Regions from separate parts of the Homo sapiens genome. Here all the other regions are linked to region 2. The links come from fine-mapping of genetic effects on gene expression. A gene starts in region 2. Each other region holds a variant in brackets. All regions are shown on one strand. Distances are between the middles of the regions.

The links. PIP is the estimated chance that this variant, and not a neighbour inherited with it, causes the effect.
Region 1: its variant is the best candidate, but not a certain one, in a credible set for the expression of WBP1L in whole blood (TOPMed, PIP 0.52).
Region 3: its variant is the best candidate, but not a certain one, in a credible set for the expression of WBP1L in whole blood (TOPMed, PIP 0.64).
Region 4: its variant is the best candidate, but not a certain one, in a credible set for the expression of WBP1L in whole blood (TOPMed, PIP 0.58).

Annotation. Positions count from the first base shown.
Region 1 is chr10:102,551,768-102,559,116 of GRCh38, reverse strand. All of the region lies in intron 3 of SUFU (SUFU negative regulator of hedgehog signaling), which reads right to left. Among named protein-coding and RNA genes, the nearest start is that of SUFU, 51 kb to the right of the region's middle. The variant T/G (reference allele first, on the strand shown) is at 3,718.
Region 2 is chr10:102,740,899-102,747,987 of GRCh38, reverse strand. WBP1L (WW domain binding protein 1 like) reads right to left here and starts at 4,040. Exons shown (of 4, transcript NM_001083913.2): 1 at 3,845-4,040. The coding sequence starts at 3,934. It overlaps SFXN2 (sideroflexin 2), which reads right to left. Exons shown (of 12, transcript NM_178858.6): 12 at 4,496-7,089. RefSeq lists enhancers at 3,174-3,403, 4,344-4,393 and a silencer at 3,904-4,063.
Region 3 is chr10:102,607,256-102,614,161 of GRCh38, reverse strand. All of the region lies in intron 8 of SUFU (SUFU negative regulator of hedgehog signaling), which reads right to left. Among named protein-coding and RNA genes, the nearest start is that of TRIM8-DT, 32 kb to the left of the region's middle. The variant G/A (reference allele first, on the strand shown) is at 2,228.
Region 4 is chr10:102,794,890-102,802,238 of GRCh38, reverse strand. It overlaps WBP1L (WW domain binding protein 1 like), which reads right to left. Exons shown (of 4, transcript NM_001083913.2): 2 at 4,144-4,246. Among named protein-coding and RNA genes, the nearest start is that of CYP17A1-AS1, 34 kb to the left of the region's middle. RefSeq lists an enhancer at 5,880-5,929. The variant A/G (reference allele first, on the strand shown) is at 3,253.

The DNA of each region.
Region 1 (7,349 bases), 190 kb after region 2:
AGGACGCTAGGATCATGGCAGCCATCTCTGGAATATGAGGAAACCAATTTAAAAAGACAAGCCAAGTGCTAAGGAAGGCAGAGAAGTTAAGAACAACTCAGGTCCTTGAGAACATCGCTGAACAGATGGCAGCCAACCCTGGAATTGCCCCTCCTCCAGATGGCTTGCCATGTAAGGTAAGTGCCCTTATTGTTAGGCCACTCTGGTCAGGGTGTTCTATTACTTGTAGTCAAAACCATCCCAACACATACAAGACAGAACAGAAAGTGCCCGCTCCATCGACATCTCCTCTAATAATCTGACTTCCAAGTGTTAACTGTACACCATGATTACTGAGGTAAGACATGTCCCTCCAGTCCCGTGGCAGCAACTGATTTTGCCTATGCAAAGCCGTGCTATTCTTCTGCTGGTGGTTAGCCTTTGCTTTAGAGGACTTCCCTCCTATTCCATGTGCTTGGAAGTGATGAGCAGAGGGAAGACTTTCAACGTAAATCCTGGTGGTCCATCTGGACCACTGCCACCAACCAAGGTGGTCACATGGCCAGACAGAACTAATCTGTGTCCTACCCCAGAACTGATGTAGAAATGTCCAAAGTTTAAAGCCTTGGCTGGGCGCAGTGGCTCGCATGTGTAGTCCTAGCACTTTGGGTGGCCAAAGTGGGTAGAGCACTTGAGCCCAGGAGTTCAAGACTAAAACCTGGGCAACAGCGAGACCCTGTCTCTACAAAAAGTTTAAAAATTAGCTGAGGGTGGTGGTGTGCACCTGTAGTCGTAGCTACTCAGGAGGCTGAAATGGGAAGATCACTTGAGCCCAGAAATTTGAGGCTGCAGTGAACTAAAAAGGTGCTATGGTACTCTAGCCTCTAGTCTGGGTGACAAAGCAAGAACCCTGTCTCAAAAATCAATTAAAAAACAGGCCAGGTGTTGGGGCTTGTGCCTGTAATCCCAACACTTTGGGAGGCCATGGCGGGTGGATCACCTGAAGTCAGGAGTTCGAGACCAGCCTGGCCAACATGGTGAAACCCTGTATCTCTACTAAAAATACAAAAGTTAGCCAGGCATGTTGGTGCATGCCTATGGTCCCAGCTACTCGGGAGGCTGAGGAAGGAGAACTGCTTGAACTCAGGAGGCGGAGGTGCAGTGAGCTGGAATTGTGTCACTGCACTCCAGCTTGGGCAACAGAACAAGACTCCGTCTCAAAAAAAAAAAAATCAGTAAAAAACAAACAAAACACCGAAGTTAAAAGCACAAAGCCCTGTGCCTGCTGGGACTACAAACTGAGAGAAACTGAAACTAGGAATGATGGTGCTCATCTCCCCAGTGGTGGCACATGGGGAGAGTCTGCAGAACAAGATCAACATACAGAGAGTCATAGCTATAGTCATAGCCCAGAGGACCCCATTTGAACATACAGATCAAGCCACACCTGAAACCCTTGTTGTCCCAGTCACCTGAGCCAATGAAGTCTGTTATTGTTTTTCTTTGTTTTTTGTTTTTGAGACAGGGTCTTGCTCTGCTGTCCAGGGTGGAGTGTCCAGTTGTGTGATCATGGCTCACTGCAGCCTCGACCTCCCTGGCTCAAGGCAGCCTCGACCTCCCTGGCTCAAGTAATCCTCCTACCTCAGCCTCCTGAATAGCTGGGACTACAGATGCATGCCACCATGCCTAGCTAATTTTTTCAATCTTTTCACTCTACCCCTGTGGGGTTTCACCATGTTGCCCAGGCTGGTCTCAAACTCCTGGGCTCAAGCAATCTGCCCGCCTCACTGCCTCAGCCTCCCAAAGTATTGGGATTACAGATGTGAGCCACCACGCCTGGCCCTGTTATTGTTTAAGGTAGTTTCAGTTGGGTTTCTGCCATTTTCTTTTTCTTTTTTTTTTTTTTTAGAGGCAGGGTCTTGCTCTATCACCCAGGCTGAGTGCAGTGGCATGATCACAGCTAACTGTAGCCTTGACCTCCTGGGCTCAAACTCAGCCTCCCAAGTAGCTGAGACCACAAGTGCATACCACCACATCAAGCTAATTTCTTTTTTTTTGAGAGGGAGTCTCGCTCTATTGCTCAGACTGGAGTGCAGTAGTGCAACCTCCGCCTCCCAGGTTCAAAGTGATTCTCCATTCTCCTGCCTCAGCCTCCTGAGTAGCTGTGATTACAGATGTGCACCACCATCCAGCTAATTTTTTGTATTTTTAGTAGAGACAGGGTTTCACCATGTTGGCCAGGCTGGTTTCGAACTCCTAACCTGAAGTGATCTGCCTGTCTCGGGCTCCCAAAGTGCTGGGATTACAAGTAATGAGCCACTGTGCCCCACCCATCTTCCTTCCTTCCTTCCTCCCTTCCTTCTTCCCTTCCTTCCTCCCTCCCTTCCTTTTTTTTTTTTTTGAGTCTCACTCTGTCATCCAGGCTGAAGTGCAGTGGCACGATCTGGGCTCACTGCAATCTCCGCCTCCCGGGTTCAAGCGATTCTCCTGCCTCAGCCTCCTGAGTAGCTGGGATTACAGGCACGTGCCAGCACTCCCGGCTAATTTTTGAGTTTTTAGTAGAGACACGGTTTCTCCATGTTGGTCAGGCTAGTCTCAAACTCCTGACCTCAGGTGATCCACATGCCTCGGCCTCCCAAAGTGCTGGGATTACAGGCCTGAGGCACCATGCCTGGCCCATTTTCTTATAACTAGAAGAATCCTAACTAAATCACCCTAATCTGTCTATATCTAGCCATATCTGGAAGCCTTCACTGCCTCTGGATGCTCTTCATTCTCAGATCTCTCCCATTTCTACTTCCTTTTCTCTCCAGCTCAGCTTCCACCTCTGCGCAAACCTCCCAGAGGGTAGCTGTCTGCCAGCAGGTCAGGGCTGTTATAGAAGCCATCTGAGTCATGCTTCAGAGCAGGCTTCCAAGGCTGCCTCATACAGCTCCATGGCTGGCTGTGGGCATCTCCGCCCCCGCCCCCACACCCACCGGAGCCTCATCGTTCCCCTTTCATTCGCCTCCCACTGCCTTGATGCTATTTCCAAGGCTGGGTTGTAGGACTGCGGATGTCACTTAGATCTGGAAAAGCAGGTCTAAACAGTTCACTTGCTTGATTACACTGCTGAGCATGTTCTCACGTGCAAATGGGTGGGTGGAGTGCTCCCCATAAACTCACTAAGTTTAAGGTGGACAGCACAAGTGAGGCAAGACCATCAAACAGAATTACAACACTATGTACGTAGGCAGGTATATCTGTGTACACATCAAACATAAATGACACACGTTCTGTACAGTACATATGCATGTAACTCTTGTAGCGTGTAACCACACAGGGGTAGAGTAATGCCTACAAGTCACAAAGGAGGTGCTCTGCAGCAGCAGCTGAGTGATCTGCTCTGAGAAAACCTGATAGACCTACACCCAATCTTACAAAATATTTACAATAAGGGGCAATTACTTACACTATAGAAAGATTCTTCACCTTATTAAAGGATTTACTACAAGGTCCCACTAAACTGCATAGGCTCTACCGGACTTAGAATAGGGTTTGATTTGCCTAAGACTTCACAGGCAACTACATAAATCAACTACAAAAAACCAAGGAGCCACACCTGAACTGAATGTTTTCAGCTATATAATATGATGTACAAAACGAGGTAATTTTATTTGTATCAATATTACTGATTTTCCGTGTGAGTAAGATAATGCCTCCAAATGTCATCATGTCAGCTGAGGCTGCATATCTGAT[T/G]CAGGGACGAGCAAGACATTTCCTAATACAGTTTTGCTGTTAAGTAGGGTCTGTCATTGAGGAAAAAAAAAAAAAAAAGACCAAGGTGTCCATCTTGATCCATATAAAGTTTTTTTTTTTTTTTTTTTTTGTGAGACGGAGTCTCACTCTGACGCCCAGGCTGGAGTGCAGTGGCGCAGTCTCAGCTCACTGCAAGCTCCATCTCTTGGGTTCATGCCATTCTCCTGCCTCAGCCTCCCAAGTAGCTGGGACCACAGGCGCCCACCACCACGTCCGGCTAATTTTTTTTATTTTTAGTAGAGACGGGGTTTCACTGTGTTAGCCAGGATGGTCTTGATCTCCTGACCTTGTGATTCGCCCGCCTCGGCCTCCCAGAGTACTGGGATTACAGGCATGAGCCACTGCGCCCGGCCAATCCATATAAAGTTTTTAAAGACTGAATAATGATAATGATTGCAGGTAAAACATAGTACTTACTGCGTACCAGGCACATTCTAAGTGTTTTACAGGTATTAATTCACCTCTCGATAACTTCATGCGGTTACTATTATCCCTGCTTTATAGCTGAGCAAATGGATGTACATGTTGCCCAAGAAGGCAGTAACTGGCAGAGCCAATATGAATGCAGGCTATCTGGGTCAGGAGGCCACACTCTTAAACCACCACACCATGCTGCTGCCTTGATCTGGCAGTCACAGGCAGATGGAGAACAGTTCAGGCAAGAGGAGTGGGGATGCGGAGCTACTTAAGCTATTAGCAATGAGTTCAGACACACAGTGCTAAGGATCTAACTATGCAGTGAAATCAAACAAAAGAAAAGAATGATGTTGGAAGTCAGGAGACGGTAAGAGTATTGACTAAAAGGAGACGTAAGGGAGGTTTCTAGAGAACTGGTCTGTTTCTCAATTTAGGTGCTGGTTACATGGGTGTATGTGGTTTGTGAAAACTCATCAAGCTGTACAGTTATGTGTACTTTTTTTTGCTTTGTTTTGTTTTGAGACAGAGTTTTGCTCTTGTTGCCCAAGCTGGAGTGCAATGGCGTGATCTCAGCTCACTACAACCTCTGCCTCCCAGGTTCAAGTGATTCTCCTGCCTCAGCCTCCCGTGTAGCTGGGATTACAGGTGTCCACCACCATGCCCAGCTAAATTTTCTATGTTTAGTAGAGACGAGGTTTCACCATGCTGGCCAGGCTGGTCTCGAACTCCTGACCTCAGGTGATCCAACCACCTCGGCCTCCCAGAGTGCTGGGATTACAGGCATGAGCCACTGCGCCTGACCTGTTTTTGTTTTTGTTTTTGTTTTTTGAGACAGGGTTTCACTCTGTCATTCAGGCTGGAGTGCAATGGTGCAATCACCATTCACTGCTGCCTGTACCTTCCAGGCTTATGCGTAATCCTCCCACCTCAGCCTCCTGAGTAGCTGGGACCACAAGCACGCGTCACCACAATGGCTAATTTTTAAAATTTTTGTAGAGACAGAATATCCTTATGTTGCCTACGCTGGTCCTGAACTCCTGGGCTTAGGCCAACCTCCCACCTTGGCCTCCTGAAGTGCTAGAATTACAGACATGAGCCACCGTGTCTGGCCAAGAGCTGCCATTCAGAGCTACACTGTCTGGGTTAAAATTTGCCTTTGTGGCCGGGCGCGGTGGCTCACGCCTGTAATCCCAGCACTTTGGGAGGCTGAGGCGGGCGGATCACGAGGTCAGGAGATGGAGACCATTCTAGCTAACACAGTGAAGCCCCATCTCTACTAAAAACGCAAAAAATTAGCTGGGCGCGGTGGCGGGCGCCTGTAGTCCCAGCTACTTGGGAGGCTGAGGCAGGAGAATGGCGTGAATCTGGGAGGCGGAGCTTGCAGTGAGCCAAGATCACACCACTGCACTCCAGCCTGGGCAATAGAGCGAGACTCCATCTCAAAAAAAAAAAAAAAAATTTGCCTTTGTACCCACTAGATGTGTGATCTTGAACATGCAGCTCAACCTGTGTTGTCTTGCTTGCTGCAACTGAAAAGCTGGTATATCACAGTCCCTAACCTCACATATTCAATGGCACACAGAGCACAAGTCTAAATGTTAGTCATTCCCATCACCATTTAGGCCCATAGCCATGGTCTCCTATCTTAAATCAGTTACCATTTACTTTTCTTTATCATTTTCCCATTATTTAAACAATTTACTATTATTTCCTACCATGTTCTAAAAAAAATTTAAAGTAGATTTGTTTTACCTGTTATTTAAATAATACAATCATATCACAAGAAATCTGGAAAATAGAAAGTCAAGTATTACACTTTTAGGAGTGTAGTCACCCTGTCCCGTTCTGACGTCCCTAAAGTGATCTGCAGACACAAACTACAGCAGGCACATTATAACGACCATAAGTGGGGCCATCAGGTACAGAAAGGGCCTCAGAGCACATATTAGTCAATGTATACTCAACAAACAGCCACAACTTTTATTTTATTTTGAAAATTTCCAATCCTACAGAAAAGTTAAAAGAATGATACAATGAATAACCAAATACCATTCACCCAGCTTCACAAGTTGTTAACATTTCGCCTCATTTGCTTTAGCTTCTCTTCATACACAGATGTTTTATTTTTTGACAATTAAGTTAAATCATTTGAGTCATTTGACAATTAAGTTAAAGACATCAGGTCCTTTTATCCGTTAATACTTTAGCCTTTATCTCTAGCAACAGGGACATTATCCTGTATAACCATAATACCATAATCACATCCAGGGAATTTCACATACAGTACTATTAACTAATACACAGTGTAAATTCACATTTTTCCAATTGTCCTTAAAAAATGACCCTTTTTTTTCAATTCAGGATCTAATCAAGGATCAACAATGCATTTAAACTGCCATGTTTCCTTTAATGTAGAACAGTCCCTGCCCCTTGCCTTTTTATGTCTTTCATAGCACTGGGGTGCGTGTGTGTGTGTGTGTATTTTTTTTTTAGGTGGGGTCTCACTGTGTCGCCCAGCCTGGAATGTGGTGGCACAATCATGGCTCACTGCAGCCTCAACCTCTTGGGCTCAAATGGTCCTCCTACCTCAGCCTCCCAAGTAGCTGGGACTATAGGCATGCCACCACACCTGGCTAATCTTTAATTTACAGGGTCTTGCTTCATTGCCCAGGCTGGTCTCAAACTCCTGAGCTCAAGTGATCCTCCTGCTTCAGCCTCTCAAACTGCTGGGATTAGAGCATTGACATTTTTGAAGAATATAGGCATTTGTCTTGTAAAGTGTCTCACAATCTGTATTTGTCTGCTTATAACTTGATTCAGGTTAAACATTTTTGGGAAAATGCTACATAGTTGATGTTACATACCTCACACTGCAACACATAAGAAGGTACATAATAAGGTCGGGCACAGTGGCTCACGCCTGTAATCCCAACACTTTGGGAGGCTGAGGCGGGTGGATCACGAGGTCAGGAGATCGAGACCGTCCTGGCTAACAAGGTGAAACCCCGTCTCTACTAAAATATACAAAAAATTAGCCAGGCGTGGTGGCGGGCACCTGTAGTCGCAGCTACTCGGGAGGCTCAAGCAGGAGAATGGCCTGAACCCAGAAGGCGGAGCTTGTAGTGAGCCGAGATCGCACCACTGCACTCCAGCCT
Region 2 (7,089 bases):
ACCGTGCCAGGCCCAGCTCAAAGTTTTAAGCCTGGCAAAGGAAAGGTAAGGACTGCATCTCTAGAGATTTGTCCCTAAACCACTGGCTGAGTTACCCTATTAAAAAAAGACATTTCTACCAAAACTTTGTTTTAAATAACATAGTCAAATATTCTGTTTAGGCTGGGCAGAGTGGCTCATGCCTGTAATCCCAACACTCTGGGAGGCTGAGATGGGCAGATCGCTTGAGCCCAGGAGTTTGCGACCGGCCTGGGCAACATGGCGAAACCCCATCTCTACAGAAAAATACAAAAATTAGCAGGGCGTGGTGGCATGCACCTGTAGTCCCAGTTACTCAGGAGGCTGAGGTGGGAGGCTCGTTTGAGCCTGGGAGGTCGAGGCTGCAGTGATCCAAGATCACATCACACCACTACACTCCAGCCTGGGCAACAGAGTGAGATCCTGTCTCAAAAACAAAACAAAAACAACAACAACAAAAACAAACATTCTGGTTAAATCTAAACAACCAAAAGAAACTCTATGTATCTCAATGATAATTTAACTGGAGGAAACAAACGCCAAGGCTGTCGGAGCCTTACTATTTGGAGCATCTACTGTTTTCTCATTCTTTTTTTTTTTTTTTTTTTTTTGAGACGGAGTCTCGCTCTGTCACCAGGCTAGAGTGCAGTGGCATGATCTTGGCTCACCACAACCTCTACCTCCCACGTTCAAGCGATTCTTCTGCCTCAGCCTCCCGAGTAGCTGAGACTACAGGTGTGCCACCATGCCTGGCTAATTTTTGTATTTTTAGTAGAGACAGGGTTTCACCATGTTGGCCAGAATGGTCTTGATCTCCTGACCTTGTGATCTGCCTGCCTTGGCCTCCCAAAGTGCTGGGATTACAGGGGTGAGCCACCATGCCCAGCCTTTTTCATTCTTTATAGATTTAAGGATTCACGTCTGTGAGTTGTAATGTCATAACCTGTAGGAGAGTTAAGTCTAAGTTCCTAACCACAGAATGAACTAGCTGATGAACTTTCCAGGGCCTGCCTGCATAAACAAGAAATGGCTGTTTCAGTGCAGAGCTGGTAACAGGGAAAGCAAGTTGCCTAGTATCATTTATTTCTGATGGTAAATGTGTATGTAAAAAAAAGATTGTGCATGTAAAAAAAAGATTGTATTGTAAGTAGATCAATTTTGTGGGAGAAATGCAATAAGGTACCAATACCATTATTCGATACAGAATGAGTATAGTAAGTCCTCCTGAATTCAAAGTTAGCTGGACTTCATTGTTGAATTAAGGACCATGGGTACTTAAAGTATGCCCTGTGCCAAAATGGCCTTGGGATTTTTTTTTCCTTACTGATTTGTACAAGCAACCCCTTCCCCCACCCCCCCCAAAAAAACCCAAAAAAATACACTGACTAAATTGCGGTGGATTCAGAGTTAATAATTATATAGTAACTTGCATTCCGAAGGTTAAAATTCAAAACAGAAATCTCACTATAGATATCTAGTACTCCCAGACAGAAAGAGACAGGAGTATAAGGTGGGGGATGGAATTGTATAGGGAGCGTCAGGAGTGAGGGTATGTGGGGGCTGGTTAGGAAGAGGGCCACTGCTCATTACGAAAACTTTCCCTTCTCTGCAGGAATTGTAACCGTGTAACAGCTGTTGGTCAGTGATAGCATTCATCCAAATGGAACAAAGTACAAAAGACACCTGTCCCCAAAATTAAGTATTAGAAGTGCCACAGATATAAGAAAGCAGCCTGTGGTTTGCAAACTGCAATTAGAATATAACATTAACAATCCCCTTCCACATGTTCACAACACCTCCCAGGCTCCACGACCTGGTAGGAACCTCCACTTTCCATCATCCCCGTTGCTGAAAAAGTGGATCTAGTTCCTATCTTTGACCAGCCCATCTCCAAAGGCTCTGACATTCCTAAACCAAACCTCTACCGATGTTATTTATTGGTTACTGGGGACAGCCTTTTCGAGATACTTACAGAAACAGACATGTGCAAAGGAAAAGTAAATTCTGTATTTACTATATTCTATATTTTGTTGTCAATACCTATACTTAACTTTACTGGTCCTGAGGGCTATAACATTTCTAGTAAACAAAAAAAATATATTTCTTCTGCCAGTTTATGATTTCCACTGGAAAAACAACCCCAACAAAGGCTAAAACAGAAGGGTCCCAACCCTCGAAAAGGGAATACACTGGGCTAGAAAATGAGCTACATTCCTTTCACATGGTATTTCTAGTATACACAAACATATCCTGAGGAAAAATTAGACACTTCAATGCATAAATAAATTGTGGTTTACAGATAACAGAATGTTACTTGGTCATGAACAGGAATGAAGTACTAGTACATGCTACGATGTGGATGGGCCTTATAAACATTACGCTAAGTGAAAGGAGCCAGGCACAAAGACCACATATTGTAGGATCCCGTTTATATAAAATATCCAGAATAGATAAATCCATAGAGACTGAAAGCAGACGGGTGGTTGCCAGGGGCTGGGGGAAAAGGGAGACAGAGAGTAACTGCTTAGTAGGGACGAGGTTTTCTATTGGGGTGATGAAAATGTTTTGGAACTAGATAGAGGTGGTAGTTGCACAACATTGTAAGTGTACTAAATGCCACTGAATTGTTCACTTTAAAATGGTTTTTGTCATGTGAATTTCAACTTATTTTTTAATCAGTATTTTAAAATAGAGGATAATGGGCAAAACAAGATGTATTTGTGAAAAGGCAGCCCTAAAACTCCTAGGGAAAAGATAAGTATTTTTGCTGGCACTCAGTTTCTGCTCTTGTTCACAACACAAGTTCAAGCGCTAAGTTGTATAAACTTTGCCACTACGCTATGCGTCTATGTGTGTATGCCTTTCTGAAAAAACGGGGAAAAGAACAGAAAGTGAAGAAAAAAGAATCATAAAGCTTTGCCACATGCAAGGAAGGAGGGGTGATTGCCCCCACTGCACCCCACCCAACTTGGCACCAGGAGTAACGCTCCCATTAGGGTTTTGAAATGCCAGCTGGAGCTGGAATCAGCACAAGCAAGCTTCTCTGCCTGGATAAAGAGCAAGCCACCCAGCAAGAAAAGCTAGGGTGCTCCATTTGCTGCCCATATTGGCATCAGAACCACCCTCTGGTCAAAAGCCCTGAGCTGGCTCAGATCAGCATCCGTGACTTGCTCTCCCAGGCCAGCCAGCCTAACAGCAAGAGCTTGTTACAGCTCAAGTGTGCTCCTCCTCCTGAGGGGTTCCACTCTGTTTCATCCCACCTGCCTTCTGAGAGTCCTCCCTCCAACCAAGTGCGCCATGGCTTACAGATTTTAAAATGGGGCCAAGTCTCTCCCAGGAACATAGTAATTTTTTTTAAACGTACTAAGATGCCCTCGGAACTTTCCCCAGTCCATCCTTAAAGAAATATCCTCAGGATCCCCTCCCTCACAGGCCAACTCAATAGCCTGTGTACCCCTACACACACAGACGTACATACTGCATTACTGCCTGGGACACCTGCTCCACAGAGGGACACGAATAAGGCCCACATCCTCAGCTTGGCACCGCTATCCAGCCACAGTCACCCCAGCCCACCTAACCAACCTGCCGTCTCAAACGCCCCTCACTCGCTTGGCATCATGCCTCTGCCACCTCCTTGACACCAAAACTGTCACAGGTGTCCCTCAGCTAAATACCGACGCCCCTTTAGATCCTGTCCACGCCAGGCATAGACGCCCCTCTCGGGACCCCTCAACTCTTGGCAACAACACTCCTTCAGACCCCTCCAGCCAGGCCTCGACGACCCCCAGGACCCAACATGGCCCAGACGCCCCCTCCCCCTTACCTGCGGGGGTTCAGCCCTGGCTGACAAGGGGCTGGGCAGCGCCTGGAGGAGCAGGAGCGCCATGCCACCCAGGAGCCTTCTCCTCTCCATCCCCCTCCTGCTCCTGCTCCTCCGCCACGGCGCCGCCACCTCCCTCCTCCTCCTCCCTCTCCTCCTCTACCCTCTTCTTCCTTCTTCCCTTCTTTTCCTGTTTGACGCTCCCCTCCCGCTTCCGGCTCTGCTCCACCCCGCCCCGCGCAAAACACCCTCCCAGACACGCGAGAGACTCTCCAGTTCCAGCGCTTCATTGGCCTTTGCCCTTTGTCCATTGATCAATGTAGCTGTCGATCAAATATAAGTCCCGCCTTCCCCTGAAGACGAAGCGATGCAGCCAATAAAAAGTAGGAGGAAGCCGGACCATCTTGAATGCTGCGAAGAAGTGTAAAATTCGTCCCAACCCGCAGAGAGTGGCGGAAGCAGCTTCATAAGGGGGCGGGGCCACCCAGGTGGATGGAAAAGTCTATTTCTGATGTAGCCATCTTGAGTGTGGCGGAAGTACTAGTTTTCCAGTTTTCCACATCAAAAAAAGAAAAAAGGTTTAATGTTTCTCAAGGGTGTTGGAAAATAAATTATTCCTGAAAGGTAACCAGGCGCTCCTGAAGAGGAAAACAATTGCAATGTAAAAATATTTTAATGTCTTTTGTCTTGAAGCACAGCACTATTACCAGGATGCCTCTCTTGGTCTCAACTGCCCAAATAGCAGCTTAGGTCCGTTTGAATTCCCTAGAAGATAGTACCTTTATCTGAGGCATAGTGCTTCGTCACCCCAAGTTCGACGGACAAAATTCTGGTTCTACTTCACAAATTGCTCTGAAATCCATCATCCATTGCTTCAATCCATGTTCTTCTAGCTAAATACAAATGGCTTCCCTGCTGCCCTGCAAGTTGACAATTCTTCCTCTCAAATTTCCGCCACACACTACAACCATACCACATTAAACCAAATATTACTATATCATGGCCTCTTCTTTTAAATACTTCATCTACCTACAGAATAGAGAGTCCAAACTTCCCAACACGGTCCTCTCTGTGACTTCGTCCCTGTCTACTTCTCTTTATCTCACCTCTCACCACTACATTTTCCCACACATTCCACTCACACTGACCATTGAAGAGATGCCCAGTAACTTCATTTACATATTACAGATACAGTTCCCTGCTTACAAACTCCTAGCCCCATCTCCTTGCTGCTTCTTCTGGATTCTTGTAACACTTATATCTGCGTGCCTGGTTTGCAGTTTTTTGTACAGCATACCAGGTCTTTCTTCTTCTTCTTTTAAAGCCTATAATATCCTGTACAAGGCTCAACCAGAGCTTGATCAATGTTGGTAAAATAGCCAGGTGTGGTGGCTCATGCTTATAATCCTAGCCCTTTGGGAGGCTGAGGCAGGTAGATCCCTTGAGCTCAGGAGTTTGAAACCAGCCTGGGCAACATGGAGAGAACCCTGTCTCTACAAAAATAAAAAAACTAAATTAGCCAAATTAGCCAAGCATGGTGGTGCACACTTGTAGTCCCAGCTACTTGGGAGGCTGAGGTGGGACAATCACCAGAGCTAGGGAGATTGAAGCTGCAATGAGCCTTGATTGTGCCACTGTACTCCAGCCTGGGCAACAGAGTGAGACCCTGTCTCAAAAAAAAAAAAAGGCCAGGTGCGGTGGCTCCTGCCTGTAATCCCAGCACTTTGGGAGGCCGAGGTGGGCGGATCACATGGTCAGGAGTTCGAGCCTGGCCAACATTGTGAAACCCAATCTCTACTAAAAATACAAAAAATTAGCCAGGCGTGGTGGTGCATGCCTGTAGTCCCAGCTACTCAGGAGGCTAAAGCAGAAGAATCGCTTGAACCTGGGAGGCAGAGGTTGCAGTGAGCCAAGACTGTGCCACTGCACTCCACCCTAGGTGACAGAGTGAGACTCTGTCTCAAAAAAAAAAGAAAAAAAAAAGTTGGTAAAATAAATGGACAAAGGAAGACCCATGGCAAATAACACAGTTGACTTTAGCAGTCAATTTCCTCTCAAAAACCTGTCAAAGTGTTTTACAGCCTGGCCCAGTCTAGCCCACATCTGAGCCCAGAGGAAGTTGTTCTTGGCTTAAGTGTTGGAAAAATGGGAAACAGGTAAGAGTTAAGTCAGTCTTCCCTCAGCTTAAGAAAGTCCATAGTTCTGCCTTTATCTTGATCCTGCTTTTCCAAGTACTATAAAAAGTGACACGTATTTTTGCCAATCTCTCGTTTCTTAGAAATTTATCCATTCCACAAGTCAAGCTCCTTAGAGGAGAAGTAAAAATTGAGTACTAGGGAAGGACCAAATTATTTTCATGGCACAAGGTCTCTAATTCCTGGCCTCAAAAAGTTGTAAGTCTTCCACATAAAGGCTAGGTTTCATCATCACTAAGAAACCCCAGGTGGGATGTAGTGGCTCACGCCTGTAATCCCAACACTTTGGGAGGCCAAGGCATGAGGATTGCTTGAGGTCAGGGGTTCAAGACCAACCTGGGAAACATAGTGAGGCCCTCTGTCTACAAAAAATTTAAAAATTAGCTGGGCATGGTGGCATGTACCTGTAGTCAGGAAACCTTTAGGATTCTGGTTCTAGCCAGGATTGAGGAAAAGACCTTGGATCAAAAGGAAGCTTCTATACCTCTTCTTCTTCCCTTCCTCCTCCTCTCCCGAGCAATGGAACCTTTTACCCATGCTATTCTAGCCGAACTCAGGAAAAAGAAGCTACTCGGGAGGCTAAGGCAGGAGGATCACTTGAGTCCAGGAGGCTGAGGAAGCAATGAGTCATGATCATACCATTGCACTCCAGCCTGGGCAAGAAAGTGATACCCTCTTTCTCTCAATAAATAAGAAACCCCAATTCAGTTTGGCAAACACAGGGGATTTTGCCCCAACTTCCCTTTCTCCTTTTACCTGAAAGCTCAAGCTGAGCTATTGGATAGGACAGTCTGGATTAGCACTTCCCACACCAAGGCCTTTTAGTAACCTTAACTGCCTCTTATTCAACATCCCACAGCAGCCAACTCAAAGAAGAGAGATGTTACAAAATGAGACTGAGATGCAGTTTGAGTGACCACTTTTTAGAATGTCCCTGAACATTATAGCCACCACATACCTTCCAGACATTTCCAAAAGAGCAGTTGTCTATAAGAGAACAGGAAATCCAAGAGGCTTGAGGAGCTGAGAAGGAAGGGGAAACATTGTATGTTC
Region 3 (6,906 bases), 130 kb after region 2:
AGCACCATGAGATGCGGCTCCAAGAGTTTCTGTCCAGCTGACCCTGAAGGCTCTGAGGATGCACATTCCGCCAACAGCCAGGAGCTGCAGGGACATTCACACCCTTCATCTAACCAGATGATGATACAATCTGTACTGCTGAGTACAAGCTGGGCTCTTACGAGTCAGACCAGTGGGCTTGGCTGGAAAGCAGAACCGGGCCCCCGCCCTGCTGGGCTTTAAGGCCCCAGGAGCCTGTACCAGATTCCTCCTGACTGTGGCCTTGGCACGGTGAGCTGTCACTGCTGCCCCACACTCCCTCCTGCCTGCTCCCCACCAAAAGTGCGGCCCACGGCTGGGACACAGGGTCCCTTTGCATTCTAAGATTTGCTCTTTCAAATTCAGCTGCCCCCACTGACAACCTCTCAAATCTGCCTCAGCCAGAAATAAGAGTTACCCACTGATCCCATTCAAAAGGCCGGATCCTGGTTTGGGCTGTGAATCTCAGAACAATTCCCCAAGTGTCCATCAAAAACTGGGTGAGAAGCTCTAGTTATTTATCATTCAAGTGGCAGGCAGGAGCCACCCAGGATGACAGCCAGACAGCCACTGAGGGGCAGGCCCAACCTCCTCACACGTTGCGGGGCTAGGTGCTGGGGCCTGCAGCCAGGGTGGCACCCCAACAGGCAGGGCACCTCCCCAGGGGAAGGTGTAGGGTCCGCAGGCCAAAGACAGAGGATGGCCCTGTGGCGGCAGTGGGTTAGACGTGCCCCTGAGGTCATGGGCCGTGCCTGCCTGCTGGCCTTCTCCTTGTGAGGACTCACTCCTGGATCTGACTGTTCCTTCACAAAGCGGTCCCTTCCTCTGCTTTCCTAAAGCCAGCTCTAAAACTGCCTTTTCCCCTGGCTTCGCCTTTGCGCAAGACCTGTGAAGGAGACAAATGCTATGGCCAAGAGGGTCACAGTATTCAGGACTGGAAGGAAACTCTGAGGTTGTTTAATCTCCCTCTTTCCTTTACAAAAGAGAGTGGGTGACGCGTCCCCCCTCACCGTGCGTCAGACTTCTGATCGAAGCCTCAGACTTCCGACCAACTCTCTTTCCCTTCCACCAGGGCCACTGCACCTCCCTTCCTTCTGAGGGAGGCAGCAGTCACAGGTGAGGGCTCAGTGGAGACATAGGGTGCCCTCAGGGCCCAAACAAGAGCAGAACTCAGGAAGCAGTGTTTCCTGAGCCATGTTTCCTGAGCCCTTACTCTGCGCCAACCCTCTGCTAAGGCCATAGGTTCACTCGCTGATTCCTCCCAGCAAGCACGAGGTAGGCTCTGTTGTCAAGCCTTCTTTCACAGAGGAGGTAACTGAGGCTTAGGGAGGTGAGGTGACGAGCCGAAGGGCTCAGAGTGAGTTTAAGCGAAAGGACCAGGGGGTGACTCTCACAATCACTCCCCTGTGCCATCTTTGACCACCGGTTCCTGCCTCCAGACACACTACTGTCCTCCTGAGAGGGGCTGAGGCCTAGCTTGTCCAGGCAGGGCGTGCTAGAGAATCCCAGCCTCTATGGTGCAGGCAAAAATGCTCATGAATAGCAATGGGAGGTGGGGTGGGGGCTTGCAGAAAAGAATCAACAGCACACAGGGCTAGAGACGTCTCAAGCTGGAGGGAAAAATAAATTGTTGAAAGTCAGCTAAAGTCACCTTGGTAACTGCCACAACACACTCACCCAGAACCAGGACATCAAACCCAACTGCAAACAGCCTTAAAGAAATGGAAAAGAACTTAATCATCTGAAGAATTAATGTGACAAGTGCCCACATTTACACCTCCCACCAACCTTCAATCATTTGAAACTGTACTTTAATCTTTTAAGAGAAAAAAAAATTGCAAAATGCAAGATTTGCAGTCCTGGAGCTTGGGTATTTCCGGCATGCTGCTTCGATGGAAACGCGGCTGCTATACACACACACACACATGCGCGTGCACACACACACACACACACACACACACACACACACACACAAGAACCCAGTTTTCTGCTGATTTGTTTCTTCTGGACATCGATGCAGAAGCATGAATTATTTGTGTGGGCTAGGTGAGGTATTAAATCTGCAGCCGACACAGGTTTGCAATGTTTTGCATGGTTGTCAGCTTAATCTTAGTCATAAAAAATAAGTAGTGTGCTCGGCAGCATGGCCTAATTTTTCAGCTGGGCTGTTTTCTCCCTGAGTTCCCAGTGGAGGGGAAGGCATGGCTTT[G/A]GGGGCTGGAAGGGAGAGGGGCTCTCAGGGAGGCACAGCTCATACCCGCTGGGGACTGCCAGGGGCATGGGGCCAAGGCTGTGCTCCAGGAGGCAGAGTGGCTAACAGCTTAAGTTCTGGGTTCCAGTTTTATGTGACATTGGGCTTAACTTCTCTCTGGGCTTTGGTATCCTCTTAACAAGAATAAATAACAATAGGTCATTATGACTAAATGGGATGACTCAGATAAGGCCAATAGTGCCTGGGATGTAGTAGGTGCTCACAATATATCTGACAAGTGCATTAATGTGTTGACGTTAGCTGGCTGCCTCTAAAAGTCTATCTGCTCCTCCTGTAAAAATGTCAATGGCTTAACCAAAACTTGTTTGCCTTTACAACTGCCTCTGGCCAGGCCAGTTCCCTGCTGAACAAAGGTTCTTGCCTGGAGCTTGGGAGAGGGTACTTCTGAGATGGGGCTTGAAAGAGCTCCTGACTCCTTGAGTGGACCCTGCAGGCTTTGGTCAACCACTGGTGCTCTGGAAAGGCCCAACTACAGTCCAACAGAAACACTGAGGCCTTTGCTCTACTGAGGGAGGTGACGCCAGGGCTCTCTTCCTTCTACAGAGCACAAGCTGCCTTCCTGCAATTCTCAAACCACTGTTCTTCAAGTTGCCCAGAGCGAGCTGAATCCATCTTCCCATAACAGACTTTCCAATCCCTGAGGCTGCTCTCACATCCCACCAAGTTTCTTTTTCTACTATCTGTGGCTCTAACTTTTAACTAGATTCTTGACAAGGTTCTGAAATCCTCCATCCATTCAAGTCACCTCCCCTGGGCTCATTCTAACCTGTCAAAGTTTGATGTCCCATCCAGAAGTGAAGTGTCGTGTGTGGCAATAAACATAGTATGTGACCTCACCAGTGCAGATCACAGAGGGACTATGATCTCTCTTGTCCAGGACATTTTATTTCTATTAAAACTGTCATCGAATTATCTACTCTTTGTAACCTCCTCATACTACCAACTCACACTGCACTCCCTCTGTCAACGAAATCTCCCTCGGGCTTTCTCCCATGGGATGCCCTGGGACCCGTTCTCCCCCATATGTCTGGCTGATTACATGGAGCTAGGAGCAGAAGAACTCTGCGCTATCTGGCTAGTGTTCCGGCAGTTCGGGTATTTCTGAAACCTGACTCTGGCATCCATCATATTGGCATTCCTTCCTGACTTCAGATCACTGACAAAACTGATAAATTCGTCATCGATGTTCTCATCCCAGGCTTTGATTAAAAAGTAAACAGGAAAGGGCTAGGCAGACAGGCTGACGGACTGACATCATTACTCTTTGGGTATGCTCATCCAACCAGTTATAAATCAACCCAACCTTCCCATCGCCACGGCCCTCACCCTTCTGGATGTTCTCTGGACATTTCTGTTTTGCCTATAATGCTGTCAGAATGTTCTCAAAACATCTTGCTAAACCCCGCCTATATAAGGTCTACAGCACTTCCTTTGTCTACTTGGGCAGGTAAGCATTTCTTTTCTCTTTTTCTTTTTTTTTTTGAGACAGAGTCTTGCTGCGACGCCCAGGCTGGAGTGCAATGGTGTGATCTCGGCTCACTGCAACCTCCGCCTCCCAGGTTCAAGCAATTCTCCTGCCTCAGCCTACCGAGCAGCTAGGATTATAGGTGCCCACCACCACACCTGGCTAATTTTTGTATTTTTAGTAGAGACGGGGTTTCACCATATTGGCCAGGCTGGTCTCGAACTCCTGACCTCAAGTGATCCTGACCTCAAGTGATCTGCCCGCCTCAGCCTCCCAAAGTGCTGGGATTACAGGTGTGAGTCACCGCGCCCAGCCAGGTAGGCATTTCTAAAAAGGCAACGACGATGTTGAGTCCACTTAGCGGTCTTTGGAAAAAATTAAAAATAAATAAATAAAAAGGCAATGAGGATGGTCTGGCAAGCCTGGCTGTTTCTGACTCTCAGGACTCGCTCTTTCCCTTGGAGTGTTCACAGCCTACTTGCTGAATAATCTAGTCCAGAATTTTCACTGAGAGTGACACCAAGCTCACTAGTCTAGAGAGTGCAAGATGCTTTTTGCATCCTGAAACTTCCGAGTACTTCCAGTCTGCCAACACCTCTCTCCCATTCCCTCAAAGATTGCTGACACCAGCTTCATGACTCTCGCCTGCCAATTCTGGTGTTCTGGAGGCACAATACATGTGAGCCAGGAGAGCTGAAATAATAGATTCAACCCTCTTGTCAATGCCTGTGGGACCCTTCCTGGTCTGATAACCATTTGCTTTAATATGGAACCATAACAGAACTTAAGCAAATTTTGCTTTCTCTCTGCCACTGATAAATGTTACTCTGTCCAAACAATTGGGTCTAGGTTTTCTTCTTCTTGCTCCAAAGAGAAGTACAAAAATAATGTCCTTTTTGCTGGTCATTGCACTTTTTTTGCAAGACTCAGTTCTTGAGTTTCAGCTTTTCTTGACCCTGTTCTTTAAAGTCTATGCTGACATAACATCTCTCTCCTTCCAGCATTTGTTCAAATTCTTCCAAATTGAGTTGTGTGAAGTATTCTCTACAGACCTATATTGGTCCCTGGAGGTAATAGACCTCCTTTTGGTTTTCAGGGGACTATTCACAATAATAAGAGACATCTTTATTGAGCACAGACTATGGTGCTGGGTCCCATGCTAATCCTTTGTGTACTTTGCTTCCTTTCATTTCCATCACAACTCTATAAAGAGGCATTATTTTCCCCATTTTACAGATAAAGACACTGAAACTCAGAAACTTAAATAACTAGCCCAAGATCGCACAATGAGTAAAGAGCTGAGATAAAACCCCAAAAGTAACTATAATATTTCTACATTTCTCCTTAAGAAACTCCCATCTCTTTTGAGTGGTCTTTTCTTCCGGGGTTTCAAGACTATGAAGACATATCTATCTTTTCCTTGAATTCTTAAAAGAACTGCCTTCCTGGAAGACAGGGCAGGACTTCCCAAAGGGTATTCGATGGAATTTTAATTTAAGAGAAGCCTCTAGAAAAACAGGTGTGGCAAAGGTGGATGGAATATGTCCCATCTCAGATTAGAGATTCACAAAATGTTGGCATTTTGGACTCTGAGGAGGACAGAGGGAAAATGTACCGGTTTCATTTTGTGTAAGCCAGCATTTTCCAACTGTAGCCAGAGAACCCTCTTCTGGCTGAACACCCAAGAAAATCCCCTAAAACGCTGTGGGGACCTCCTCTAGGGACTACTGGCCCAGGGTTTTCCCTCCTGAACTCTGCCTGCCCAAGCTGCTTTCTCACAGGACTCACACTCCCTGCTGGTCAGAATTGGGTCCACAGCCAAGTTCCCCCCATTATCTTCTGTGCCCCTGAGACAGACACTTTTCAGGGGGCTGTCAGATGATTCTCCATGGCTCACCCTCAACTCTCAGCCTGAGGCTGGGGAAGCTGAAGTTCCCCTGGGCTTGCCTTGGCACTAACTGTGTGCTTTTTACCTGGCACACATCATCCTTTCTTTTCACTGGGCAGGGTAAACTGTAACAGCTCATACAATATCTTTTTCTTTTTTCTTTTTTAGTGTTTAGTCAAACGGTTTCATGAGGGTCATTACAATAGTCACTGTTTTCCCATGCTCCCCTCCTCGGAGACAACTGTCACCTCTGTAGATGATTCTTTCGCATTTTCCTTAAATTTTTTTTTTGTTTTTTTAGACAGAGTCTCGCTCTGTTGCCCAGGCTGGAGTGCAATGGTGCTATCTTGGTTCACTACAACCCCCAACTCCTGGGTTCAAGCGATTCTCCCACCTCAGCCTCCCGAAGAGCTGGGATTATAGGCACCCACCATCACGCCTGGCTGATTTTTATATTTTTGTAGAGATGGGGTTTTATCATGTTGGCCAGGCTGGTCTTGAACTCCTGACCTCAGGTGATCCACCCACCTCAGCCTCCCATCCTTGATATTTTAAATAAACTTTCCCCGGTGTTTCCTTTTCTTTTCTTTCTTTTCTTTTTTTTTTTGTTTGAGATGGAATCTTGCTCTGTCGCCCAGGCTGGAGTGCAGTGGCAAGATCTCGGCTCACTGCAACCTCCACCTCCTGGGTTCAAGCGATTCTCCTGCCTCGGCCTCCCGAGTAGCTGGGACTACAGGCACGCAACCGTTTCCAGCTAATTTTTGTATTTTAGTAGAGACGGGGTTTCACCATGTTGGCCAGGCCAGTCTCCAACTCCTGACCTCAAGTGATCTGCACGCCTTGGCCTCTCAAAGTGCTGGGATTACAGGCGTGAGTCACCACACCTGGCCTGGTATTTCCTTTTCAGGCTTTACCTACTGACTCCCCACTAGGGAAGATGAGCTTTTAGCTCTCTTCCATGCACCTTCCCACCTTTTCAGGATAACTGCACCATCAGTTTGTGTGGACTGGTGTGTTTAAATTTTATGACTATATCAATGCTGTTTACAGTTGAGCCATGTATTATATTAATATACTTTTCCTTTCTGTCATAATTTTCTATTTTCCTTGGATTTAATACCTGTCTTAGTTTTCTATGTGCTTATCACCAATTAAATCAGAATTACTATTATTGGCTGGGCGTGGCGGCTCATGCCCGTAATCCCAGCACTTTGGGAGGCCGGGTGGGAAAATCGATTGAGCTCAGGAGTTCAAGGCCAGCCTGGG
Region 4 (7,349 bases), 54 kb before region 2:
GTCCAGGAGGTTAAGGCTGCAGTGACCAAAGATCATACCACTACACTCCAGCCTGGGTGATAGAGTGAAACCTTGTCTCACACACACAAAAAGAGGAAGGAAGGAAGGAAGGAAGGAAGGAAGGAGAAGGTGGAAGGAGGAGGGGGAAGGGGGAAAGGGAAAGGCTGGGGGAAGGGTAGGGGAGGGTGGAGGAAGGGGAGGGGAGGGTGGGGGGAAGGGTGGGAAGGTGGGGGAGGGGTGGCAGGGTGGGGGAAGGGTGGGGGTGGGGGGAAGGGTAGGGAAGGGTGGGAGGGAGGGGGGAGGAAAAGTGGGGAGGGAGGGGAGAGGAAGAGTGGAGAGGGAGGGGAGAGAGGAGGAGGGAGATGGGAGGGAGGGAAAGGAAAGAGAGAGAGAAAGAAAAAAAGAGAGAGAATAAAAAATGAAAAACGAGTTGGGCAGCACTGACAGGATTTGCTAATAGCCTGTTTTGTGTCACTTCAGGGAAATTCCACTGTCCAGAAACATACCCCTCTCCCTCCTAAAGCCCAAACCAGGGGAAACTGATGCCTGGGTGAAATTCTCCCAAATGATCTCAAGGGCAGAAATTCCCAACTTTGATCTCTCCCTGGAAAATGTAGCTTGCTGAGTGGAGAGAGCCCCAGGATGAGAACAGGGAGGAGTGGCTTTGGGGTTTGGGCCAATGCACATCCTATCCCCTCCCCGCTGGATTACCTTCTGAAGGTAAGAATTCTGTCTCTCCAGTTTCCAGCCCAGAGGAGGTCACAGCATCAACTAGGAACTTGTTACAATTGCACATTCTCAGGTTTTTAAATTCTCAGTTTTGAATCAAAAGCTCTGGGAGTAGGGCCCAGAAGTGTGTGTTTTCGGTAGCCCTTCAGGAAATTCTGATGCCTGCTAAAGTTCAAGAGCACTGGAATAAGGGTTTGCTGAATGAATAACTGATGGAATGATGAATTAAAGTACAGGTGCCGTAAAAATGCATGGAGATAATACTAACAACGATCAGGTCCTTAATAGCCTCAACTACTGCCCCTATTAAACAGGATCTGCCGTTCTCAACACATGCAGGCCCAATAACTGGTTTGGGTTATGAAACATTGAAAAGACATGTGGGAAAGGTTGCCGGCCAGAGCTCAGGTCTATGTGTGCTTGTGTGTCTGTGTAAACCGTGTGTGTGTGTAAGTATGTGTGTGAGAATTGAGAATTTTCCTCAGCACACAGGAAAATGCAGTTTAGTAGAGGTAAAGGGTGGGTAGAAATGGCATTTTTTCCCGGAGGCCTTTCCTGTAGGCAACTATAGTTAAGGAGTTGCCCTGTCTGATGAAAACTCTGCCAAAGGATTTCCTGGCTGAGGAATTTTCTTTCCAAAGGAAGGTGGGAAGGAAATCAGCCCAAAGCCCGTGACTTTCACACTTCAGGCAAAGTTGAGAGGCAGTTAGAGGGAACAGGGTTGAAAGCAACAAAAAGTGCCATTTTGATGAGAACTTCAGGTGTTTGTTCCAACATCAACCTCCCTCCCATACACACCAGGCAGAAGCCATGACCTCAATAAAGAGGGAGATCGGAGGACTTCCTGAGAAGGGCGTTTTGCTTTTATGTCTCCCATGCCTCCAGAACGTGGAAAACACATGCCAGCTCATTTAACGGGGCACCTTTTCTCTCCGTCTAGACACTGCTCTCTGCTGGGCCTCCTTTCCTAAACGCCCGTAGCTAGAGAGACACTTAGCCGTTCATGCAGCTCTTTCTCTGACTTTCTTTAAGCCCTTGGGGTGAGGCACCTGCTTTCCCAGACTACCTCCTTGCCCTCTGGGTCTCCCTGTCCCCACCACTCCACCCCCCTGCCCTGGCTTTGGTGACCCAATTCAGGTGGCTCCTGAGTCGGCTCTGCCAAAAGCCCAGGAGGCTCTGTCAATCTGAGACGGGGCCATGAGCAACTTCGTTCCTTTTCACAACTGATGCCGCCTGGCCAGGACCCAGAAAAACAAACTACAGCTCTGTGGCTTTTTGGCAGCCCAGCTTCAACTTTTGTTTTAACAAAGGGTGGGAAGGAGAATTTGAACCCTGTGGTTATCTGCATTTTAAAACATTTAAACAGAGTCTGTCTACCTGCTTGGCACTGTGTGTCCTCTAGTAAGTTTCTCAGCCCCACCCCTTCTAAAATAGCAACAATGACTGTGCCCTCCTTCACTGCTGCTTATATATCTGCAGGTCTGGTGGGGACATCTTGAGCCTTGTGCTCTCCTGCACTGGACTGCTCCTGGAATTCCTCAGAAAGGCAGATGAGCCCGTCCTCAGTCCTCAAAAGGGAAAAGCGAGGGTGAGGGAGAGGTCTTGTTTGGAGGAACCACTCCTGTTGGCTACAAATACAACTGCATTTCAGATGGACAGACCTCCCAGCCAAGAGTCTAATTTCCTTTCTGGACCAAACAATAGTCCTTCTGGCTGCTTTCTTGCCATATCACTGACACAGGGGTTGATGGGGGGGATGAGAAAGGGGAAAGGCGCAGATAGGATGGTGGGGGCAAGGTCATGGTTTGACAAACCCGAAGTCTGTTTCCAAATGGAGGCAGTGATGAGGGCTTAGAATCATCTGGGGAAACCGCCTGCAGTCTCCTTTCTCAAGAGACAATTGTAAGAACTACGGCAATGTCAGTCACCTGGGGCCTCGCTGTCCTAAGCACCACCCCCCCAACACCCTCTCATTCTTTGTCCAGCATCCTACACTGTCTCGTCTGAGTTCCAGGAAGGTCAGAGTACAAAGAGTGTCAGTTGAAGCAACCTTGGGTCACTCCCTGAAGACCCTAACACCATCACCACTGTCGTGCAACTTGAAGAAGCAAGTGGTTCTGGCTTCAGTCAAACCAGTGGCAAGACAAAGATGGTTTCCACATGGCATTTTTCTTTTTTTTTTTTTAGATGGAGCCTCGCTCTGTTGCCCAGGCTGGAGTGCAGTGGCGCAACCTCGGCTCACTGCAACCTCCGCCTCCCGGGTTCAAGTGATTCTCCTGCCTCAGCCTCCTGAGTAGCTGGGACTGCAGGCACACACCACCATGCCCAGATAATTTTTGTATTTTTAGTAGAGAGGGGGTTTCACCATGTTAGCCAGGCTGGTATTGAACTCTTGGGCTCAAGTGATCCACATGCCTTGGCCTCCCAGGGTGCTGGGATTATAAGCGTGAGCTACTGTGCCCAGCCTCCACATGGGATTTAGCTGACAGTAAAAGGTTAGGTACACTGGAGAATCCTCCAGGA[A/G]CTTCCATGTGAGAACTGGGTAAGAAATAAAAGGAGCTGAGCCTCAAGACTCCCTTTCTCCAGAAGGTCCTCTATAGGCAAGGACCTAGGGAAAGACTGTTCCTTTCCGAAGGACCCTCAGAAACAGAGGCACTCCATGAGGTTCTATGGGAAATTCTGGAAGCCCCTGTGGTCCTTACAAGAAAATGGCATAGTGACCATCTAGAGTGGCCTGGCATTCATAGTAGCTTGGCTTGCAACCTCTCTCTGCAAAAACAGCAAGCCAGCCAGGTGTGGTGGCTCACGCCTCTAATCCCAGCACTTTGGGAAGCCAAGGCGGGCAGATCACGAGGTCAACAGATCGAGACCATCTTGGCCAATACGGTGAAACCCCATCTCTCCTAAAAATACAAAAATTAGTTGGGCATGGTGGTGCACACCTGTAGTACCAGCTACTCAGGAGGCTGAGGGAGGAGAATCAGTTGAACTCGGGAGGCAGAGGCTGCAATGAGCTGAGGTTGCGCCTGCACTCCAGCCTGGTGACAGAGCGAGACTCCGTCAAAAAAAAAAAGAAAGGCAAACCTGGGCTTCTGGGAGGGCCCAAGGAAGCATCTAAGTTGTTGTCAGCTGCTCAGCACACAATGGAGAGGGCAGCCAGGAGAACCTCAGGCAAGAGCTTCTGCAGCAGACCTGGCTAAGACCATATTCTCTAGTCTTCAGCTAACAAAGTCCAAAGAGCACCAGAACTCTCTTCCTCTACAAAGGAAGCACTTCTGGAACCCATAAACAGATTCCACTCACCAACACTGTCCCCAAGAGAATCCGAAAAGGGCTAATGCCCAGAGTTTCCCACTAAGCAGAGGCAGTAACTGGGACCCTGGGATACTGAGAGGCACCCAAGCAAGGACTTACACCAGAGTTCATAGTAGTAGTTGCAGCACTGAGACTGTCCACAGCAGTGTCCTGTGTCACAGATGTAGCTTTGATTGTTGGTACCCACACAGGCTTCCTTATCCTAAAAAATTAAAAAAGCATGTTAGCATATTAAATGACAGCTTTTGAACACTTTCCTTCTCATCATTGTCCTCCTGGTTGTCTATTCACCAGCCCCCAAAACAGTTTGTATCAATGTTTATTCCATTAAGAAAATCAACTTTGGCCAGGCGCGGTGGCTCACACCTGTATTGCCAGCACTTTGGGAGGCCGAGGCAGGCAGATCGCGAGGTCAGGAGTTCGAGACCAGCCTGACCAACATGATGAAATCCCGTCTCTACTAAAAATATAAAAATTAGCCAGGCGTGGTGGTGCGCGCCTGTAATCCCAGCTACTCAGGAGGTTGAGGCAGGAAAATCGCTTGAACAAGAGAGGCAGAGATTGCAGTGAGCCAAGATCACGCCACTGCACTCCAGCCTGGGCGACAGAGCGAGACTCCATCTCAAAAATAAAAAATAAAAAAGACAAACAAACAAAAAAAACTTTAAAAGATTTACACAACAACAACAGAGTTTAGGGGAAAAAATATGGTTTATTAAAGAGGAGAGGAGATTCAGGACACAAAAGCAATTGGCAGAGTGAAGTTTTCCTCAGACAGGACAGGCAAGGGCTGCCTCACTTTAGGTCCAAGTAGAAACATTTCATGTTCCGGTGCTAACCTCAGCCGGTAGGAGGGTGATGATTCCCTGGTAATTAGCAGTACATTTTAAATAAAACTGGCTTTTCTGTGAAACTTCCTGGAATAATTAAAGCGGTATGTATTCTAGGATTAGCATCTGCTCAGTTATTCCATTCTTCTTTTTAAAACACTTTCTCTCCAAGGTTAATTCACAGTGTGATCCTAAAGAGGGCAACAACAAAAAAAATCTACAACTGAAATTCTTTACTTTTCAATAAAGGGCCGAACTGCTCAGATAACCCAGTCTAATTTCAATCTGCTAGATCATTTTTGCTTATTGAAAAAGAATCCTGACTGGATCCAGGATTCATACTGTCCCTTGTCAGGGACACTCACATAAAGGGCACTACTGAGTGGCCATCTAGCTGTCTGCCAAATTCTGTCCACAGCACTGGTGGATGAGGATGGAGGGGAACTTTAAAAAAAAGTTTCACATGTAAGATATAAAATACCTCCCAGACCAACGTTAACCTCAGCCCAAAATGTACTTGGGGCCACTATGCAGATGACGAAACCTGTAAGGCATCTGCTATATGTGGCCTTCAACATTTCTTCATTCTAAACAATAACACAGTCACTTACTGGACGCTGTCTTTGTGCCAAGCATTGTGTTGGGTTCAAGGGATACAAAGATGAATAAGACATTGTCCTTATCCCCAAGAAGCTCAGAGTTAAGAAGGAAAAAAGCCCTGCTCAGCAAATAAACTAAAGCCACAGTATTTGCGGCAACTCAGGCTGGCCCTGCCCACAGTGCACATCCGGCGGACAGCTGCCAGTGGAAACTGAAGTCACATGGTCGGCTCCTCCTCTCTGGGCCATGCTTTACTACACTGTCTACTTGGCCAAGGGTATACACCAGGCACTCCAGTGACTGTCTACAGGGCTAGAGGCTGGGCAGAAACAGGACTGGCACCTGAAGCCACACGGAGAGGACAAGAGAAAGCACAGGACTGAAAACCAGTTCCCCGGCTTAGTGCACGTTTCCACCATAAATCTTTAGGTGTTTCTTGGTCTTAAAAACTTTACATTCTGATATGACAGTTTAGAAAGAAGGAAACGAGAAATTCATAAACCCTGACAATGAGGCCCTCACAACATTGCACGCAGAGTTCCTTCTATGTGCTCCTTCCCCCGCCGCCCCACCACCACCCTCCCATGTCCACCATAAGCAAAATGAGACACTGGCTATCAAGTTGGATTTCTCATACCATCTACTTAATCCTGTACTAAAAGTGAAAAACAGAATGATTTCTACTGGCCATGTATGCCATTCACACCATCATAGCTGAAAAACCATTAAGTTGAACCATCGCAAGTTGTGGACCATCTAAATATCTTGTCCCCTGTACTTCTTCCTCCTTCCGTTTTCACCATCCCATGCCCACCACAAACAAAATGAGACACTGGCTATCTAGTCAACTTCTCCTCTGAAGCCTGGTGCGTGTGGAAAAAGCAGATCTATGCTTGCTACTTTGGCCAGAACACACACTCTTTGACTTCAGAGCAAAACATGCCTTTCATAAAAACATCAGAAAGTTTCTCCCCAGTTTACCAGGCCCTGCGAATGCCATTCTTCCGGCACTGGCTTAAAAGAGCACAGTTCAAAGTGTCCACATAGTTTCTAAAAGAGGCAGTGGTGCCTACACTTGGCACAAGAAAGAATCCAATGACACTTCTGTCTCAGGAAAATTCACCAGAGGCAGCCCAGGCTCGGAACACATGGCTGTCAACTGGTCTTAAGTGAGACATAGAGTGGAATGCATTTGAAATCTAAACAAGTGGCATCCTCATGACCTACTGCTGTCAGTCAGCTTTTCTCTCGGATCTTCTGTGCACCGAGGCAGGGGGCCTGGAATAAACAAGACCTCACTCTGCTTCACCGTTCTGCCTCCGCTTTCCCAGGGAGAGCAGAACAGTGGAAGCATCATTTAATCCAGTGTTCCTCAAACAGTTTTTAACACAGTACGGAAGTTTCTCGGCTTACGATGGGGTCATGTTCTGGTAAACCCATCATAAATTGAAAATATCGTCAGTCAAAAATGCATTTAACACAGTTAATCTACTGAACAGCATAGCTTAGCCTAGCTTACCTTAAACTGCTCGGAACTTACATCAGCCTATGGTTTGGTAAAATCCTCTAACACAAATTATTTTACAATAAAGTATTGAATATCTCATGTCATCTACTTAATACTGTATTAAAAATGAAAAACAAATGATTTCTACTGGCTGCATGTATCAATTGCACCACCATAAAGTTGAAAAATCACTAAGTTGAACCATCACAAGTTGTGGCCATCTATATATCTAGTCCCCTGTGGTCCTTCTCCCTCCTCTAAATACAGAGTCCCTGAGCTGCCTGGGATAGTCTTGGTTATGGGAACTGTCATTTTCTGCTGCAGCGGTACGAAAGAAGGTGTACCTCTAGCAAGGAAGAGGTGAAGGA